3 separate regions of the Homo sapiens genome follow, and all the other regions are linked to region 3. Evidence: fine-mapped expression QTL. A gene starts in region 3. Each other region holds a variant in brackets. All regions are shown on one strand. Distances are between the middles of the regions.

The links. PIP is the estimated chance that this variant, and not a neighbour inherited with it, causes the effect. A credible set is the group of variants that fine-mapping cannot tell apart.
Region 1: its variant is the best candidate, but not a certain one, in a credible set for the expression of LRP2BP in sun-exposed skin (GTEx, PIP 0.78).
Region 2: its variant is the best candidate, but not a certain one, in a credible set for the expression of LRP2BP in caudate (GTEx, PIP 0.59).

Annotation. Positions count from the first base shown.
Region 1 is chr4:185,372,262-185,375,024 of GRCh38, forward strand. LRP2BP (LRP2 binding protein) reads right to left here. Exons shown (of 9, transcript NM_001377440.1): 5 at 2,058-2,200; 6 at 1,874-1,979; 7 at 595-818. It also overlaps a transcript of SNX25 not described here. Among named protein-coding and RNA genes, the nearest start is that of LRP2BP, 22 kb to the right of the region's middle. The variant A/G (reference allele first, on the strand shown) is at 1,173.
Region 2 is chr4:185,347,197-185,349,959 of GRCh38, forward strand. The region is part of intron 13 of SNX25 (sorting nexin 25); the gene reads left to right. Among named protein-coding and RNA genes, the nearest start is that of LRP2BP, 47 kb to the right of the region's middle. The variant G/T (reference allele first, on the strand shown) is at 1,363.
Region 3 is chr4:185,394,720-185,397,472 of GRCh38, forward strand. It overlaps LRP2BP (LRP2 binding protein), which reads right to left and starts at 1,205. Exons shown (of 9, transcript NM_001377440.1): 1 at 60-1,205. It overlaps ANKRD37 (ankyrin repeat domain 37), which reads left to right and starts at 2,122. Exons shown (of 5, transcript NM_181726.4): 1 at 2,122-2,231; 2 at 2,431-2,583. The coding sequence starts at 2,205. RefSeq lists silencers at 1,328-1,517, 1,738-2,107 and an enhancer at 1,638-1,707.

The DNA.
Region 1 (2,763 bases), 22 kb before region 3:
TACAGATAAGGCAATTGCTGCTTAAAAAACTTGCTTCAGCTAGTAGCACTGAAATCCTGAAGGCTAATGGCATAGAATTGTGCTATCCAGTATGGTAACCACCAGCCATATGAATATTTACATTAAGTAAAATTTAAAAGTTTAGTGCTAAGTTGCATTAGACACATTTCAAGTGCTCAATAGCTATCATTTCTAATACTGCAGAAAGCTCTGTGAAGGATTTGGCATAGAACATGTAGTAGGCATTCTTATCAATACTTTCATCCAGTTTATTCAAACATTACTGCTATGGTTTGACTAGTAAGTTCCCTTGGAAATCCCAGTGTTGCTAGTGTGATCGTATCAAGAGGTGGGGCTCTTAAGAGGCGACGAGGCCATGAGAGCACCTCCCTCATGAATAGGACTAAAGCCCTTTTTATAAAAGAGGTTTCCTGTAGCTTTCTGCTGTCACGTGAGGACATGATGGTCCTCCCCTCTGGAGGTTGCAGCCCTCTCCTGGCCTCTGGAACTGTGAGAAATAAATTTCTGTTTCTCATAAATTACCTAGTGTGTGATATTCTGTTACAGCAGCACAGAACAGACAAAGACATTCACCTTTTGGAAAATGCAACACACTTTGTAAAAAATTTCATCTTATAGTAATACTCCACGAGATTCCCTTGAGCATAGACGTTTCCGCGTTCTGCTGCTTCTCTTAAGCACTGCAGGGCAGCTTCCGTATCCTGCCGGATGCCTTGTCCATACAAGTACATGAGCCCAAGTGCACCCTGGGACTCCAGATTCCCATTGCCACATGCTTCGGAATGCCAGTAAAATGCCTAAGAAAAGCACAGTTTCATCATTGTATTTGTGATCCACTAGATGAAATTATAAGGGAATACTAGACAGAAAAGAACTCTGTGTTTCCTAGATAGCACTATTAATCATCTCTAGGAAAGAGCGGTAGGCCTTTGGACGCATTTCACACTAGCACACATGCCTAACACAGTGTGGAGGCGAGTTCCTCCGCTGTCTGTCCACAGTGCAGGTGAGATCACAGTCCAGGCAGCTTATGGCAGAGGAAGACCAGCTGTCCTAGGTTTCAGGATTTGGGGATCTTCAGAGTAAGGATCAGGAAGATGCCAAATAGGAACTCAGTGTCTGAAAGGCGTGAGGCACAGCAGAGGAGGGGA[A/G]ACCACTGATGCTAAGGGAGAGTTCGAGCTCCCGGTGGATTCTAGAGATAGCAGCTGCTGCGATCAAAGACAACCCAGGATAAACGCTGTATGTAGGCTCAAGCACATTTGCCTCATACTCTGCTACAGTGAATTTGAATTCATTTAAAAAATTCCAGATGGCTGCTTATCTATCCAAAGATGGCCTTAGTTGTTATGTGTCTCTTGCAAATTTGCCATTAACTCCTCTCTCACAAGTAGGACTCAGCCCCCATTTCCTTCTCCTTATAGGATTTTTTGGAAACTGTTTCAACCATTGATGAAAGAGATTATATTTCTGTGAAAATCTTAGATGGATTTTATTTGTAACTAATTCTTGGTATATTTTACTTATTAGTATCAATTTCTCAAGTCAACGGTAATATTCATCTGTTCATGCTTAGAAGGATTTTGGCTGTAATTTCAGGACTGTTTCTCTTCTTTTAGCTTTGATACTATAGTATACAAAATACTCTCACATTCATGGTTTCCTTCGGTAGAGGTAGGGAAGGGGACATTTATAAATAAAAGGGCTTTGAGATCCTAAAATGTATGCTTTCTTTACATTTAAAGGAACTATAAGAGATATTTAAAACGACATTCCCCACCATTTTCTCAAAAAAAGCAGTGAAACAAATATTAATCTAAATATAACACTAGCATTAAAAAAGAGGGAACGTTACCTTTTCTAACTCCTTGGGCTCCTTGGTTGAGTAATACAGCCCGAGCATACTTTGAGCCTTCACACTAGCTTTGGGATTTCCATTGTCTGCTGCGATAAGCCACAGTCTACAAGAGAAAGTGAGGCATGTTATTCTCGGTTTCAGCATTTCCTTCAAACCTAATCTTGTTCTCAGGTAGGATTACCTTTCAGCTTCCTCATTTGATCGTTTAACACCTTTTCCTTCATAATAAGCTCTTCCGAGGTTGTAAGCAGCTGCAAATTTTAAGTGTCTTGCTTTGGGACATGGAGAATCAAGAATTTTCTTCATATAGTCCACCCCTTTCTCCTTCGACAAAAGAAAGAGCAAAAAAACCCTAGTTTTTAGTTTTACCCAAACTGAATTTCTTTCTCCCAATAAGGCTGTGAAGTGTCCGCCCTCTGACACGATGTATAATACTATGAATCTGTGCCCAAGGGGTACAATTGTCCTGGATTCTGCAGGGCAAGCGATAAGGAGGAAAAGAATCTCTAAAAGTACATCTCCTACTCAGGCACTCCCAGGAGCTCTGGGATATAAGAAATTTCCTTCCTTTTACAGCTGCCTGAGTTGATTTAAGTCTCGATATGGGCTTCCTTTTTTCTCTCCTCCCTCCCATCTAATAACCCTTATCCTGAATCAGCACAGTTCTTAGAACTGGCTAAAGTGGAAGAATGGCCAGGAACAGCTTTCACATTTATAATTCTTACGATACACTTGCGAGCCCCTAACAAACACCGTCTTCCATTCAAGCATACTTTTACTGTGTGCTCATAGTTTGTATCTAATATACAAATCTTATGCACTAATACGACATCTGCTACGTGGTCACAAGGAAAGCATAGAAGATATTCTAACCACTAGCAAGAACA
Region 2 (2,763 bases), 48 kb before region 3:
TCTGAGGCTTTTACAAAGGGTGCTTATATAAACGTCTAGTACTTGTCTTTTGACAAATATCTGTCGGCTGATGCCCAGAGATTAGGATTTCTCCATTTTTCTTCATGGTCACAGCAGTTTTATACTCTCCCCAGCAGTGTGTAAGGGTTCTGATTGCTCCACATCCTCACCAACACTTATCTTTTGCGTTTTTATTCTTAGCCATTTTGGGTGTAGTAGTATCTCATTGTGTTTGGGGGGTTTGGTGTTTTTTTTTGTTTTCTTTTGTTTTGTTTTGTTTTGTTTTGTTTTGAGACGGAGTTTCGCTCTTGTTGCCCAGGCTGGAGTGCAATGGCGCGATCTTGGCTCACCGTAACCTCTGCCTCCCGGGTTCAAGTGATTCTCCTGCCTAAGCCTCCCAAGTAGCTGGGATTACAGGCGCCTGCCACCACGCCTGGCTAATTTTTGTATTTTTAGTAGAGACGGGGTTTCTCCGTGTTGGTCAGGTTGGTCTCAAACTCCCAACCTCAGATGATCTGCCCACCTCGACCTCCCAAAGTGCTGGGACTACAGGCGTGAGCCACTGTGCCCGGCCATTTGTTGTGTCTCCTTTTCTATTGTGCTGCTGCTCATCCTTTCCATAATGTTTTATGGGTTTGTCCATGTTCTGGATCTGAGTTCCTTGTCAGATCTTACGTGCTACAAATATTGTCCCCCTTTCTATGGATTGCCTTTTACTTAATGATTGCTTTTAATGAACAGATGTTCTCAATTTTAATTTAGCCCACTTTATCATTTTTTTTATCTTATGGTTAATGCCTTTTGCACCTATTAAGAAATCTTGGCCTACTCCAAGGCCCTGAAGATATTTTCTTAATTTCCTTTAAACACTTTATTATTTTCTATCAGTCTGTTTTTAAATAATAAGGCCAAAGGTGTACTGTCCTCAATAACAACCACTTTTTTTTCCTTTGCTGCACCATCTATATTCAGAGTATAATTGTTAATCACACTTTGGATCTTAAAGCCCTGAAGTTCTCAGAGGCATGGAACTTTGCCTCATAAAACATGTTTTGCCTCTGCAGTAGAAGCTAGACATTCTGAGACTGAAAAAAAATGTTCTGAATATTTGTATCCTTTAAAGAATTCTTTAAATTGACATTGCACTTGTACATATTTATGAGGTACAGTTTGGCATTTTGATACATGTATATCATTTCTTTATTTTTTTTTTTGAGACAGACTCTTGCTCTCTTGTCCAGGCTGGAGTGCAGTGGTGCAATCTCAGCTCACTGCAACCTCCGCCACCTGGGTTCAAGCAGTTCTCCTGCCTCAGCCCCCCAAGTAGCTGGGATTACAGACAGGCTCATGCCACCACACCTG[G/T]TTAATTTTTGTATCTTTAGTAGAGACGGGGTTTCATCATGTTGGACAGGCAGGTCTCGAACTCCTGACCTCAGGTGACCAATCTGCCTCGGCCTCCCAGAGTGCTGGGATTACAGGTGTGCGCCACTGTGCCCAGCCACATTTATCATTTCTTCGTGGTGAGAACATTAAAAAACCTTTCTTCTAGCTCCTTTTTGATATATAATACTTTACTGTTAGCCATAGTCACCCTACTGAGCAACAGAACACCAGAACTTTTTCCTCCTGTTAAATTGTAACTTTCTAGCCACTGACCAATCTCTCCCATCCTTTCCTCCCCAGTCTCTGGTAACCACCTCTCTGTACCTCTAATATATCAATTTTTTTTCAGATTATACAGATGAGTGGGATCATGCAGTATTTGTCTTTCTGTACCTAGTCTGTTTCACTCAACTTATGTCCTCCAGGTTCATTCATGTTGTTGCAATTGACAGGATTTCATTCTTCTTTATGGCTGAATAATATTCCATCATGTATATCGGGGGGTTCGATCTTTTGGCTTCCCTGGTCCACAATGGAAGAAGAAGGATTGTCTTGGGCCACACATAAAATACACTAACCCTAACGACAGCTGATGAGCTTAAAAAAAATCACAAAAAATTCTCATAATGTTTTAAGAAAGTTCACAAATTTGCATTGGGCTGCATGTAGCCCGCGGGCTGTGGGTTGGACAAGCTTGATGTATGTATACCACGTTTTCTCTATCCAGTCATCTGTTGGACGCCTAAGTTGATGCCATGTCTTGCCTCTTTATTATAAATAGTGCTGCTTTAAATGGGAATGCAGATATATCTTTGACATACTGATTTCATTTCCTTTGGATGTATATCCAGTACTGACATTGCTGGATCTTATGGTAGCTCTATTTTTAATTTTTTGAGGAGCCTCCATACCCTTTTTCATAATGACTGTACTAATTTACAATCCCACCAACAGTGTACAAGGGTTCCCTTTTCTTTCATATCCTTGCCAACACTTCTTTTCTTTTGTCTGGTGTGAGATGGTATCTCCTGGCTTTGACTTATATTTCCCTATTCATGAGGTTGATCATTTTTTCATATACCTGTTTTCCATTTTTATGTTTTCATTTGTGTCTATTCAAGTCCTTTGCCCACTTTTTAATGGGATTATTGTGTGTGTGTGTGTTTTGCTGTTGAATTGTTTGAGTTGTTTTCCTTCATTTGAATATAATTTAAGGCCAAAGATTTACATCTGTAATGATTTCCCTATTAATATGCTGATTGTATTAAGTTTGGGACTTAACCATTAGTATATCCTGCTATTTTGTAAAATGTTAGAGAGTAGATGAGTGAAGGACATCAAGATGGGGGAGAACATCTCACTACTCCTGATCCATCCTCA
Region 3 (2,753 bases):
AGCAAACTCTTACTACTCAAGATTCAGCCCACACATCTCTCATCTATTCGGTCACTTACTCATCATCCAACGTTTTTTTTAACACTCGCTGTAAATGGCATCCTCGTTCTGGAAACGCATCTACCAGCAATTAAAACATGTAGAATTAGCACTGCTTAGGAGAACGCCTATAAAATATGCATCTTAGATCATCTTCCGTTTTAGAAAATTGATCCCACCTGCTACACGCCTGGTGAAACTCCAGTTACTTGCCAGTAAGATATTGTCCCCCAAATGTACTTATCCTGTTTTTGTGCATTATAAGCTTTGTTCAGTTTATAGTTTCTAGGCCCATTACTAAAGTCAAGTCAGATATCCAGCTGAGATACAACTTTTTTTTCTGAAAACAATGTGAGCAATGGACAGGTACGCTGTGATTAAAGGGAGAAAAGCTGTAACGACTCCCCAAATTTCCTTTCCTTATGAAATTTACGTATGTAACAGGAAGTTAAAAAATAACTACCACTTAATGCATACTGAACAGAATCTTGTTTCAAAGAAAAGATATGAAATATGGAGGCACTTTCACCACACAAATATCCCACTACATATGCTAACTGCAGTATTTATGTTCAAAACTGTAAGAACGTGTCTGATACCCTTTATTAGTTAGGAATTCCTGAAAATGAACTTCTGTGCAAACCTGAAGCTTCAACACGTGTTTTAAAAAGCAGTGCTTATTGAATTGATAAACAAAAGCGAAACTGGCAATATCAACGTGTGCTCACCTCACAAATCTGACAACAGTATCTCTACACTGCCGTTCTTTAAACATCATTAAAAGATATTGTGAATAGTTTAAATATTAAAAATGTGGAATATAAGAACGATTCTATATATTTGAACACACATTTATATTCAAATATTCATATGAATAAAAATGCTTAAAACTACCCCTTGGGTAACTAAGTATAACAACATAAACTTGCGATTGCAAATTTTATGGCTCTTACTACAAAACAAAAAGTAGAATGAAAAGACCACTTATCTTTAGAGGACAAGCATGAACTTGTTTTCTAACAGCATAACAATAAACGTATTTATTTCTCCGAGCTTTCAAAGGCATCAACAGAAGGGAATCACTAAAAATGTAGGGGAAAAGAAACACTCGGCTGGAGCTTTGGTTTCTAAGCAGATCCTTCTGGAAAGACGCTTAGGGAGAGTCTAGGGAGCAGCTCTGACGTCAGTAGCTGCCATCGGAAGTCAGGTCATGTTCTACAAAAAGCAGTGACGCACGCCCGACAGCACCCGCGGGGCCGGACAGCGGCTTCACCAGCCCCGCGGGTCCGAATCGCACGCGGCCGGGTCCGCTCTCCCGGGAGGAGAGCCCGGCGTGGACCAGCGTGACGACCCCAGCGTGCTGCGGCCTCTCCCCGAGGGCCCCTCCACAAGGGTCCCTGCGCGGGCCGGGCTCGGCCGTTGCCACTCGGGACAGCCATCCCCTCGAGTTCGCGCTCGCCGTCCCCGCCTTCACCTCCCGGGTTGGGAGGCGGGCGACTGCGCGCGAGGTAAAGGAACTTGCGTTCCCCGGCGCCGAGGCGGCAGCAGCGCAGTGCACAGCGGCTTCTGAAGGCGGCGTCGACGGGGAGCTGCGCGTGGCTCCCAGTTTCCTGGTTACGTGCGCGCCGGCAGAGCCAAAACCTGCAGCCGAAACTCCCGCTTCTCCGTAAGGATTAAAGGGCGGGCGCACTACCGGGAGACGTGTCAAACTCAGCGCGCCTCATGGCGGCCGCGGAGCCCCACCCGCTCCTACTCCAGTCCTCTCACGCCCACTGACTTACCCTGCGCACGCGCGCTGAGGCTCCGTGGGGCCGCCGCGGGCCCCGCCCCGAGGTGGGAGGGCCTGACGCATCCACAGCTGGCCAATCGGCGGATGGCCTCGCGCGCCCGCCCCCTCCCCCTGCCCCCGGCGCCGGGCTCCACGTGCCAGTGTTTGTGTACGTGCGGCCGTGGCGGGGCTGGACAGGGTCCGGGTCGTTGAGGATTAGGCTGCTCGGGCGTAACCGGAGCTGGGGCGCGGCTGCCAAGGGCCGGCCCGGAAGTCCCAGCGGTCTTTAAATTCTCCCGTGCTAGGGCCAGCCTGCGCATTCTTACCTGTCGGGGTGCGGCGAGTGTCTCACCTCTCTGCACTTCCAAGGACTCTTGTCATCTGCCTTAGGCGGGAAATGCTGTTGCTGGATTGCAACCCCGAGGTGAGATTCGGGCTCACAGAGCCCGAGCTTTTGTCCTGCAGGCTCAAGCTTCTAGATTCGTCTTCTCGTTAATGCGGGGACGGACCACTGGGCGCTGCCTGGTCAGAGCTGGTTGTGAAGGGCGGGGAGGTTTCCAGCCCGGAGGGGCGCGGGACTGGACAAAGGTGGGAAGGGTGCTGGATCTGTTCTCTTCCTGCAGGTGGATGGTCTGAAGCATTTGCTGGAGACAGGGGCCTCGGTCAACGCACCCCCGGATCCCTGCAAGCAGTCGCCTGTCCACTTAGCCGCAGGAAGCGGCCTTGCTTGCTTTCTTCTCTGGCAGCTGCAAACGGGCGCTGACCTCAACCAGCAGGTAACTAGGTAACTGTTGCTGTGTACAGCCGTCCCCTCCAACCCAGACACACACAAACATTTCTCAGACGCCAAGAGTTGTTTCAGCTGTTAAAAACATGTCTATAGCAGCGATGTCCAACAGAAATATAATGCAAGACACAGATGTAATTTAAGAGTTTTTTTCCAGTC